4 separate regions of the Homo sapiens genome follow, and all the other regions are linked to region 1. The links come from fine-mapping of genetic effects on gene expression. A gene starts in region 1. Each other region holds a variant in brackets. All regions are shown on one strand. Distances are from middle to middle. Region 1 holds the start of DLEU1 (deleted in lymphocytic leukemia 1). Region 2 overlaps DLEU1 (deleted in lymphocytic leukemia 1). Region 3 overlaps DLEU1 (deleted in lymphocytic leukemia 1). Region 4 overlaps LOC107984568 (a long non-coding RNA gene).

Evidence for each region.
Region 2: its variant is fine-mapped to the expression of DLEU1 in whole blood (TOPMed, PIP 0.94).
Region 3: its variant is fine-mapped to the expression of DLEU1 in blood mononuclear cells (TOPMed, PIP 0.91).
Region 4: its variant is fine-mapped to the expression of DLEU1 in testis (GTEx, PIP 0.93).

Annotation. Positions count from the first base shown.
Region 1 is chr13:50,080,991-50,083,678 of GRCh38, reverse strand. DLEU1 (deleted in lymphocytic leukemia 1) reads right to left here and starts at 1,510. Exons shown (of 7, transcript NR_109974.1): 1 at 1,122-1,510; 2 at 485-537. The region is part of intron 1 of DLEU2 (deleted in lymphocytic leukemia 2); the gene reads left to right. RefSeq lists an enhancer at 586-1,381 and silencers at 1,539-1,588, 1,989-2,208, 2,072-2,366.
Region 2 is chr13:50,154,171-50,156,858 of GRCh38, reverse strand. All of the region lies in intron 2 of DLEU1 (deleted in lymphocytic leukemia 1), which reads right to left. Among named protein-coding and RNA genes, the nearest start is that of DLEU2, 30 kb to the right of the region's middle. The variant A/C (reference allele first, on the strand shown) is at 1,249.
Region 3 is chr13:50,148,449-50,151,136 of GRCh38, reverse strand. The region is part of intron 2 of DLEU1 (deleted in lymphocytic leukemia 1); the gene reads right to left. Among named protein-coding and RNA genes, the nearest start is that of DLEU2, 24 kb to the right of the region's middle. The variant G/A (reference allele first, on the strand shown) is at 1,218.
Region 4 is chr13:50,682,005-50,684,692 of GRCh38, reverse strand. It overlaps LOC107984568 (a long non-coding RNA gene), which reads left to right. Exons shown (of 3, transcript XR_001750074.2): 3 at 692-972. Among named protein-coding and RNA genes, the nearest start is that of DLEU7-AS1, 120 kb to the left of the region's middle. The variant G/A (reference allele first, on the strand shown) is at 1,313.

The DNA of each region.
Region 1 (2,688 bases):
ACCCTTCTCCCACTTCCTTATTAGTACTTCAGGCACTTTCATATCTACTCTCTTATTTAACATTCACAATGAAGGTTTTAAAATATTTACAACTTTATAGGGCTCCACGCGGTGGCTCACGCCTGTAATCCCAACACTTTGGGAGGCCGAGGCGGGCGGATCGCGAGGTCAAGAGATCGAGACCCTTCTGGCCAACATGGTGAAACCCCGTCTCTATTAAAAGTACAAAAATTAGCTGGGCGTGGTGGCACTTGCCTGTAGTCCCAGCTACTCGGGAGGCTGAGGCAGGAGAATTGCTTGAACCCGGGAGGCGGAGGCTGCAGTGAGCCGAGATCGCGCCACTGCACTCCAGCCTGGCGACAGAGCGAGGCTCCGTCTCAAAAAAAAAAAAAAATTACAACTTTATTATCGTTAATTGTCCTATCAGAGTGCCCATTTTTTTTGAAGGTAGACAGGTTTGCCTAGATATGGTGCTTCTACTTACCAGTTCTAAGACTTTGGGGCAGATTTCTTAATCTGAACCTCAGGTGTCCTCATCTGTAAAGTGAAGATAATACCTACTTCATAAGGCTGTTGTGAGCAATAAACACGATTAATTCGTAAATCATTTATTTAGCACAGTGCCCAGCACACAGTACACAGTCAATACGTGGTAGCTGTCAGTATACCAACGTGTTGCACAACAGAAACTCGTCTTTGCTGGATTCAGTTCACTTATCACGCCATTAAAAAAAAAAATCATCCTAAGTGACACAGAAAAACTGCCCATTCCTATCTCAAAAAGTTTATGAACAAGTTAAGACGGTAAGAGAAACTGAATTCAATGAAAGCGCCTTCGCAACAGGCAGCTTAGGACCGGGAAGAAGGGCTTCAGCAAACTTAATCATTAACTCTAGGCAGGCGCGCGCGCACACACACACACACCGTTGAAGAAGGAGACCACGCCTCCTGTGTGGGCTCAGGTTGAATCGTACAGCGTGGTAGAGAACTCCAGGGCTGCTGAATCTGACAGATGTGGATTCATCCACTTCTGTGCCACCTGTGCTGTCTTGGGCAAATTACTTAACGTCTCTGAGCCTAGGTTTCCTGGTCTTCAAAACGAGAACAGTAATAGTTCCTACCTGGTAAAGTTGTTCCGAGGCTTAAGTGCGATAACCCCTGTAAAGCGCTGGAGAACGGCAAAAGCTCTACAAGCCGGCAGGGCGGTTTTAAATGCACGTGTATCCATATACAAGGTCTCATTGATACATTCCGTTGTTTGGAGTTTAGACACTGGCTGTAAGACGTTTTTCTTTTCTCCTAAGCAGGACCCGTATTTGTTTACCTCCAACGTAGACTAAATGCCTGTGGGCTGGTAGCTATAAGACGACCCCTCGGCCCCACAACCTCTAAGTTCACTTCACCTCCGCGGCTTTGCAAAAGCGCTACACGCACGCGCAAGAAGCAAGAGGACTGCAACCGAAGAAGCAAAGGGAGAGCCGTGCACCACGATGATTCTGCGCATGTGCCTGGCGGGAGGAGGGGGGAGGGTTGGAGTTTGCGCATGCGTAAAAATGTCGGGAAAGCAAGAGAAGGGGGGTTAAGAGGCGGTATTGACAGCTGTGGAGGCAGCCCGCGTTCCCGGCATTCCCTGGGGCGGCGGGGTTGGCTCTAACGAATTTGAATGAGGAGCCTCAGCGCTTTCGGCGCCATTTTCGAGTGATGCCTGATCTCATCAATCTAGCGGGAGAGACAGGATAACCTGTCCGAGAGTATAGCGCCACTATGACTCCGCCGGAAAAATTACTTTAAAAATCGCCAAAAATTACTTGGAGCAAAGGGCAGTCGGCGGAGCTTCGCCAAGGCTGGCGCAGTCGGTAAGAGCCTGAAGAAGTAGCAGAGCGGGACTCGGGAGGTGGCAGTGGTGGGACCCGCAGGCAGTGGTGGGTGCAGGGAGTGGGCGCGGGGTCTACTCTCACTTAATCGCGAAAAATCCGAGGAAGTAGGGTTAGGGGCAACTTGGGCGTCTGCGAGTGGGCGGCGGCGGGCGGAATGTGGCGGGAGCGCGGAGAGACGGGGCTGTGGGGGGAGGGGAGCTGCAGTTTGAGCGGGACGCGGACCGGCTGCGGCGGAGCAGCCGCCGCCCAGCGGATCTGTCAGCAAGACCCCCCGCCCGGGACCGGAGCCGGGGACGGCGCACTGCGGGGTCTCTGCAGGCGGCCGCTCCTTGACAGGAGGACTGGACGCGCGCCCCTCCCCCATTTCCGAACCGGGCCGCCTTTTCTCGCCGTTTTCTCGACCCGGTGATGGCCGTCATCTCGTGACAAGAAACTTAAGGTCGACAGAAAATTCAGGACCCGGAGTCATGGGTCCCTCCGGTGGGTCGTGGCAACAGTCCCCCCCGCCACCGCCCGGCACCCATCTATCTATATTGTCTTTTGACGCTGAAGCGTGAGGTGCCCCAGGAAAGAGTTTCCCAAGCCCTGGCTGCCCTCCCCCGGCGCGCTGGGTCCCGGTGAGGTCTCTAGGTAGGTAGGACTGGCCGCGGCTCGCGCTTCCAAGATGGGGCAGGGGCAGGCTTTTGAGGTTGTAGCGGGCTCTTAGGAAAGATGCTGGACTTTAGCTTCTTTCTGGGGATTTTTGTCATTTGCTCTCGCAGCGTTGTCCTTTCTCAAAGGGGAGGAGTGTTCACGGGTGAGATGAAAGATG
Region 2 (2,688 bases), 73 kb before region 1:
ACTCTGTAGCCAAGTGGGGTAGCCAGCTGAATCTGGTTTAGTTAAAAAAAAAAAAAAAAAAAAAAAAACACAACACTTTCCTGATGCTTTGAAGTTTTTTGGGCAGTGTAATAATATCAGGATTTGTAGGACGTTATTTTGCATAATCCTTAATAAGATATTCTTATGGCTTCAAAAAGTTAGTGGGTTAAGAGAAGCAAGAACCTCCAGCACTCATAGGAAATATTTTTTTAAGTTCTGGGTAGAAATGGCTCAAAATGCATCTCGGGAAGATACATAATTATAAGACTGTCCAAATGTGTGTTCAGGCAGGAATGCACCTAAAACTATTCTTCATAGATGGATTTCTACTCTATCTTTAAAAGATAGAGATATAATATAATAATCTCTCAAAAGCTCTGATGAAAACAAAGAAGCTTGCTGGAGGATTCTACTATGTGTGTGGATTAAGTAACTCTGTGACTAATCCAACTATTTGAATCAAAACAAGGCATTCCTTTAGAATCTTTATCACTCTAACCTCACACTCACTCACTGATGAGGACTTTTTTCCAGGCAAGGTCAAAGGGCTGACCAAGGTGATTCTGCACCACCAAATAGAAAGGAGGCTGGAGAAGGGAGAAGTGCAGCGGCAGGATACAGAAGCCACAAAATCTCTCTGCTGGAAGCCAGTTCACCTTATTATTACCAAGAAACTGAGGTTCACTTTCTGGCATTTTGGCCTGAGCATTAAAATTTTAAATTAACACCATTGAACACAACCTACTCTTTTTTTTAATGAGCATTTTATTGTCACTTTGTGGAAGGGTACTGAAACCTCTGATTTAGTATAATCATATGATTATGATTTATTCATATTGGGAATTCAGCAGCATGGGCAACAACAACTCGGGTCTGGGGGGAAAAAAAACAGCCTCACTAAATAAGGGATGGTCCCACCACTAAATATGGGGTTAGGAGTGAGTTTCTCTTTGGTTAAATACACATGCACACATATTTCAGTAGCACGACAAAGCGAAAACAAACAGAATAAAGGTGAACATTGTACTTGGTAGTTGGAAATGAAGTGTGTCATTTTAATATATATGAATAACTGATTTTTCCCCACTTTTTGGAATCCAGATGTTGGTAATCTTTGCCTCAGAATGACGATTGCCTTTTTAAGAAATCTCTTAAAACTTTAGTAGTGGTCCTCACACAAAAAGACACTGGGTCTGGGCACGGTGGCTCATGCCTGTAATCCCAGCA[A/C]TTAGGGAGGTTGAGGCAGGCAGATTACCTGAGGTCAGGATTTCGAGACCAGCCTTGCCAACATGGTGAAATTCTGTCTCTACTAAAAATACAAAAAAAAAAAAAAAAAAAATTAGCCAGGTGTGGTGGCGCATGCCTGTTATCCCAGCTACTCGGGAGGCTGAGGCAGGAGAATCGCTTGGACCTGGGAGGTGGAGGTTGCAGTGAGCTGAGATCGTACCACTGCACTCCTGCCTGGGTGACAGAGTGAGACTTCATCTCCAAACAAAAAAAAAAAGACACCGACCTAGAGGTAAAAATATTCAAATTCCCTACGTTGCTACCTCTGACAAATGAGAACTACGGGTCCACACAAGTTCACTTATCAGTATACCCACCTAAAAGATGCATCTTTCCCTGTTTGGGGGCATATGATAGAATTATAAAAGTAAATGACTTCATTAAGATAAAATAGGTCTCTGGTGTTTCAAGACAAAACCACTGGACAAAGAACAGACAATGCATAAAAGAAATACCTAATGGCCAATAAATATACAAAGAGATGCTCAGCCTTGCTTGTAATGTAAATAATGCAAGGAAAACCAGTACAGCAATTTTTCTATCAGGATGGCAAACTCTAAAAGACTGACAGCAATGTAGGCATGCAGGGGAATGTGCGGAAACAAACACCTTTGTGTATTGCTGATGATAATGTAAATTTGTATGACTTGAGCATAAACTCAGCCAACTCAGCAAGTTTATCACTATCAAATTGTTAAATGTTTCCACCTTTTGACCCAACTTTTAAGGTTTCCTTAAACAGATAATTGTACATGTGAACAAAGAAGATGCAAAAACATATTAATTGCCATGTGATTTATAATAGTGAAAAACAGAAAATAAATTATGTCCACTAATAGAAGATTGGTTAAATAAATTATTGCTCATTCATTCAACCATTGGTTGAGGGCCTACTGAGTGCCAGATAGTATTCTATATACAATATATATAATGCATCCATTAAAATAATGATGTAGATCTATAGTGATTAGTATGGAAAAGGTTACAAAAGTTTGTATTGTATTTTTTCATTTTGTAAGAGTATGTATATATTTACTTATATATATTTATATGTGAATATATATGCATTGAGAATCATCTGTAAAGATGACCACCAATATGTTATATTACCCATGGTTATCTCTAGGATTGTTGTTGTTAGTATTGATCTTTATGAGAGTCATCTGTAAGGATGATCACCAATATGTTATACTACTAGTGGTTATCTCTGGGACTGTTGTTATTATTGATCTTTATATTTTTCAATACTGCTTGAATATTTTTACAATAAAGCTATATAATCTTCATACTCTAAAAATATTAGGAAAATTTTTGAAGGAAAAAAGAAACCTTTTGGTCAATTTAATCTTATTAATATGCAGGAGAAAATACCACACAGCC
Region 3 (2,688 bases), 67 kb before region 1:
GCATGTGCCTGCAGTCCCAGCTACTCAGGAGGCTGTGGTGGAAGGAGGATCACTTGACCCCAGGAGGTCAAGGCTGCAGTGAGCCATGTTCGTACCACTACACTCTAGCCTGGGCAACAGAGTGAGACCCTGTTTCAATTTAAAAAAAAAAAAGAAAAGTTAAGATAGTAAATTTAATATTGTGGAATTTTTTACCACAATTTAAAAAACGCTTCAATCTAAAAAAAAAAAGGAATGTATTGTCAACATCTTTTAGGTTATGTCTAAATAATGAACTAAATTTAAAAAACAGAGTTCAATTCTTTGAAAAATATTTTACTAACATATTGTTTGACAAAAATAATAAATGCACTGAGATGTTTTTGTTAACATGATTATATTATACTTAAATTCTTGTGGTAAGTATAATACTATATTTATGTCATGGCAATATAATTTTGGGATTATTAAGCCTAGAAGTCCAGAAAAACTCATCCACTGTGTTAAACTAAATGATCTCTCCAACATTCCATCTGAGTCCAAAATCCCATAATCCTTATCCATTTATTAATAAGAACTAAATGGAACACTTCTTCCATTTTTTAGAGACACACATACACTTCTATATCTCAAAAGCTTAAAGGAGCAGTTTACATGAACACATAGAAGGTATAGTGTTGAGGAAAAACGTTTGAAGTCTTAAAAAAAAATTACAAGGGCACTTCATATTTCATAGGCCTCACCCTTACTCACTGAAATATTCTTTGAGGGAGATCTTATGTATGTTTTAGCTGGTTGAATTTTTTAACCTCCTTCCCATCCCTGCTCCAATCACTACTTACCACCAAATAACAATTAGATATCAAGAAAACTAAGCCTGTGACAAGGTGAACACTGGCTCTGCCTCTGCTGAAACAGTCAAAGGCATGAACTAGCCTGGCTCTTCTCCATATCTTTTCTGGCTGAGGTCCAGTTGGCTTGGTGTAGACTCAAAGGACCAGCAAAGAGCTTCCACAGGTCATCTGGTTGATTCTCCAGTAACTTAGGCAAGCCTCCACCTATCTAAACCATCCCTTCCACACCAGTCCCTGTCTTATTTCCAAAGATCTCCAGAAAAAGAGATGCCATGGTAATGCATTCTAATGTTTAACAAACCTCACCACTGGGAAATCCTTTATTTCCAAGCTAGCTCCCCGCTGCAGAAGTTAAAGATAATTTCCTTTTGTTCTCTTCTCAGC[G/A]GCAGGAGAACAGCTGGTCGCCAGTCTCCATATAATAACCTTTCATATACTTGAAAACTTTTATTAAGCCACCCACTAGTTTCTCTTTTCCAAGCTGAATAATCCTAGCTCCTTTAACCTTTCTTCATAAGTCTTATTTTTCCAACCTTTTAATCAGTTTTGTTCTCCCCACTGTATTCTCTTCTTGCTCTAATTTATGTAAAAGCCCTAGACTACTGGAAGTGAAATCTGAGCTGTTAAGGCACTGAAGTGGACTGGAGAGGTAGTTCGAGGCCTGTGAAGCAGGAGCTAGAGATGGCAAGCTGGGATGACACAGAAAAAACTGGAGAAAGAATTCACATAGTCAAGATAGTCTTAGGAGTGGTCTTAACAGCCATTCTGAATTTCCCCTGATTTCTTGCAGAGTCATCATATTTCCGAAGCTGTCATTGGATAACATTACATCCAGCTTTAAATTCTGTGAATGTCAGTCTTGACCAACATTTGGAGAACATGTTTTCCAAGGCACCCTTCAGTACAACTTTAGACTGCAATAAAATAGGTCATACTGGCTGACTCAGAAGAATGCAAATCTCCAGTAACTCATCAGCTAATAAATGCGGAACACAAATATTAAACAAACACCAAGACACATGATTTGACTCTATCCCAGTCTTTCATCAAGAGATAGGGCATAATAATGTCTGAGACAAACATTCCTTGTTCTGAGATGGTCTGACACGCACTGCAGTTTTGATCTAAATCCCAGGTGGCAGAAAGTCCTGAAAATGTCAAGGTGTTTAAGAGCACCCTGAGTTCCTGCGCCCCAAAGGAAGCGTGCCATTTGTAACTCACCAAGAGTTTTCTTTACGAGTGTTTTTTTTTCTATTTTTATTAAATAAGAATCCATGAATAAATGTATTCAGATGCATAAAGTTAAACTTTTTACTCTTGATTATGACAGGAGAGTACAGAGAAAGAAAAAAGGAAGGAAAGATAGAAGAAAAGACAGAAGGAAAGAAGAAAGGAAGGTGGGAAGGAAGGAGGGAGGGAGATGGGAGGAAAACAAGGAAATAAAGAGGAAGAAAGAAAGTTGGGTTTTGCAAAATTAAAAATGAAACCTTTCCTACTTTGTGGCCTCAATAAGGTTAAACATCTTGGCAAAATTCTACTTCTATTACGCCCATTTTAACAAAGACAAAGTGGAGTGTTTTAAAGTTCTCATTTCTCAAATACAGTATTTCTACCCCAGTCATTTTTTTAGGGCATAATTTTTCCCCAAACAGAGTTTAGTTTGTATTTCTCAACTGTAAATCAAATTATATTCTTCAGGACCAAAGCAGGCTGCCTTAACAGTTGTATGCATGTCCCTGCATACATCTGTGAGTTGTGTGTGTATTTAAAATGTGTCTTTAATTAACCATCCCATTGTGTTCAACGAGTTGGTCTTAGCCACTGATTGAAAGGCACTGAGTTGCTTATCAAAAACAAA
Region 4 (2,688 bases), 600 kb before region 1:
CCACCTATTTTTATTTTCATCTGAGCCTGTATAGCCAGACAATGGAAGGAAGTGTTTCTCTTGGTGACCCACAGTAGCCTTCCTTCCTCCCGGCCCATTGCGGTGGCTGTGGTTGTCTCATTCCCTTCTGTGTGCTAAAATCAGCCCCACTCAGAACCTCCCCAGACTCTGGTCTGTGCCTTTTACTTGCCTTGTGTGGTTATTTTGATTGCTATAGCAAGAACCCTATTTGTAAGCAGGCTGAGCAGTGTCAAGCATAGATGACCTGGGCGACAGCCCCAGGCACTTGCCTCTTGGTGCCTTGTGTCTAATTCAGAGGCATGAGGTGCTCTGCCTTATTTATGGCAGCATGTGAGGGTTCCATCTTGGAGAGCAGATGTTAGCCTTCATCTAAGATAGTGGACATCTTGGGCTTTTGATATTGGCATCAAAGCTCCTACAAAGTGCTCTGGGACCCATTGCAATATAGTCTTCCTTGGACCACTCTAAGCAGAGGTTCTTGAGAGAGAAAGAAGACAAACATGTTATGAGAATAAATCATCATTAAGGACAAAGAGACTGAAAAAGCAGAACAATCTTGAGCAAAGGATGAGGACACCAGTCATCTCTTTCTGCACCAGCATCTCTAGTGCCCAAGAACTTCTGGCACATGGTATTACACTTTATCTTTATCTTTATCTTTATTTTTAAGGGAAGGGAGAGGTCAAGCATGAGAAAGACTGATGTGGAAGTAAAGAAACCTGAATTCTTGACCCCGCCCTGCTACTAGCCAGCCTTCTGATATCAGGTACACTTTTATTTCATGTATTTATCAAGCATCCAGTACCTAGCCAAGCATAGTACTGGCACTTCAGGAACAACACAGATGAATAAGAAATAGGATCTGTTTTTAAGAAGCCCATGGGGAAGCAGACCCATACATAAAATCTAAGCCACAAAATATTGTAGGATCTACTATGTAGGGTGCTTGAGGGTAGGTCCCAGGGGTCTCCAAGAAATGCATGATTGATGGTAACTGGTTTGCGGAGGAAAGGATTGGCATAGGCTCACCTCAGTCTTCCTGTTACCATAACAAAGGCAGACTGCAGTATCTATAGCATCATTCTTCTAGAACTGTAAGTATCTCTGAATTTATGTAATTGGGGAACCACAGCACAGAAATGATGGGTATTTTCCCATAGTCCTATGAAGATTTTGTGGCAAGGCCAAGGCTGGGACAGAAGTATTGGGACTCCTGAAACAGTGCTCCTTCCATCAGCACTAATTCAGTCTCGGTGCTGAGTTGCCTTACAAAGTTAATTAATTCAAACAC[G/A]TCTGCTTATTTTATCCAAAACAGAACTTGAAATATCCACAGTGGTTCTCAGCTTGAACCTAATTTTGAACAAAGAGAAAGAACTGTTCTGCAAACCCTCTCCATTTTTCTCACAGCACATGATGAGCACTGGGGCTCTTTGCAGAAGTCCCTTATGGTAAAAACAAAACAAAACATAGTGCTCACTCCAATAAACTTGCAGTCAACCCTAGCCCAGAAGCAAAATCCCGTGCAGAGAATACAATCCCTTGTTCCTCACAAATCTAAAAGGGAAAGAGATTTGTGAGTAGAGCTTTCAGCTATGCGAATAGACCATTGTTCATCAGGCATCTCATTGTAAATTCTACTTTAAAACTTGTTTGTTTCCACTGAACCCCTGAATTTTTTACTTGTGTACCTATTTGTAACAAAAAGGAGAATTCCAAAAGCACAAAGGAAATGTAGAGGATGAGAAAGAGAGAGGGAGAGGGGAAGTGAGGTGGGGGGCGGGAATTGAACTGTGGAGTTCAAATGAACCTGTAGCTAGTGACATCTGCACTTATCTAACTCGGGTTTGGCCACACCCTATAAAAATGCACATTGAAGAGTTTAATGAACATTGGTTCCTTGTCAGATTAGCAAACTTTTCACTATCTGACTGTAATGTTTCCAATGCTTACATCTCAGAGGCTCAACGTTGAGGGAGACAGAAATCATAGGAAAAAAGAGCAATTACACAGTGTCTCAGTTGCTCACCCTCTGGGTTCCAAGAACTCAGCTAGAAGCTGAGGCAGATCCATTCATTGTGCTCCCAGATCTCTTCTCCCGGTTTTAGTTGAGCCCATGGCTGTCCAGGTAACTACTTCATTTTCTATCAGCTCTGTAGCTAGATAAAACCAATGACTAGATTCTGACCAATGAGATGTGACCTGCAATGATGTACTCCACTTGTGGGTCTTGCCCTTCAAACAATTGGGCATACATTCTCCAGATCATTTATCCCTTCCCAGTGTCTGTAAAACAGCAAGAACAAGCATTGTCACTTTGGATACAGAAATGGAAGCCATTTGTTGAGGATGTCAGTAGTGCCTCCCCATCAGCTCTGAACCATTCACACCTGAGTGGTAAAGTGAGAAAGAAAAAAGTTTCCAACTTATTTAAGCCACTATACCCTAGGGTCTCTTTGTTATAGCAGCTTACTTCAACCCAAACTAACTACCCCCATGGTGTGGGGTCAGAGTCTGGCCAAAAGATGCATTCATGCTTTTCTAGTGACATAGACTCACCCTTTCTCTTTGTCATTGACAGTGGGAAAAGCAGAGCTAAGCCAACTTTCAATACCACATGTAGTATTCATTTCTAGATGTCTGTCCTAAGGAATGTTGAAATTAGAAAAA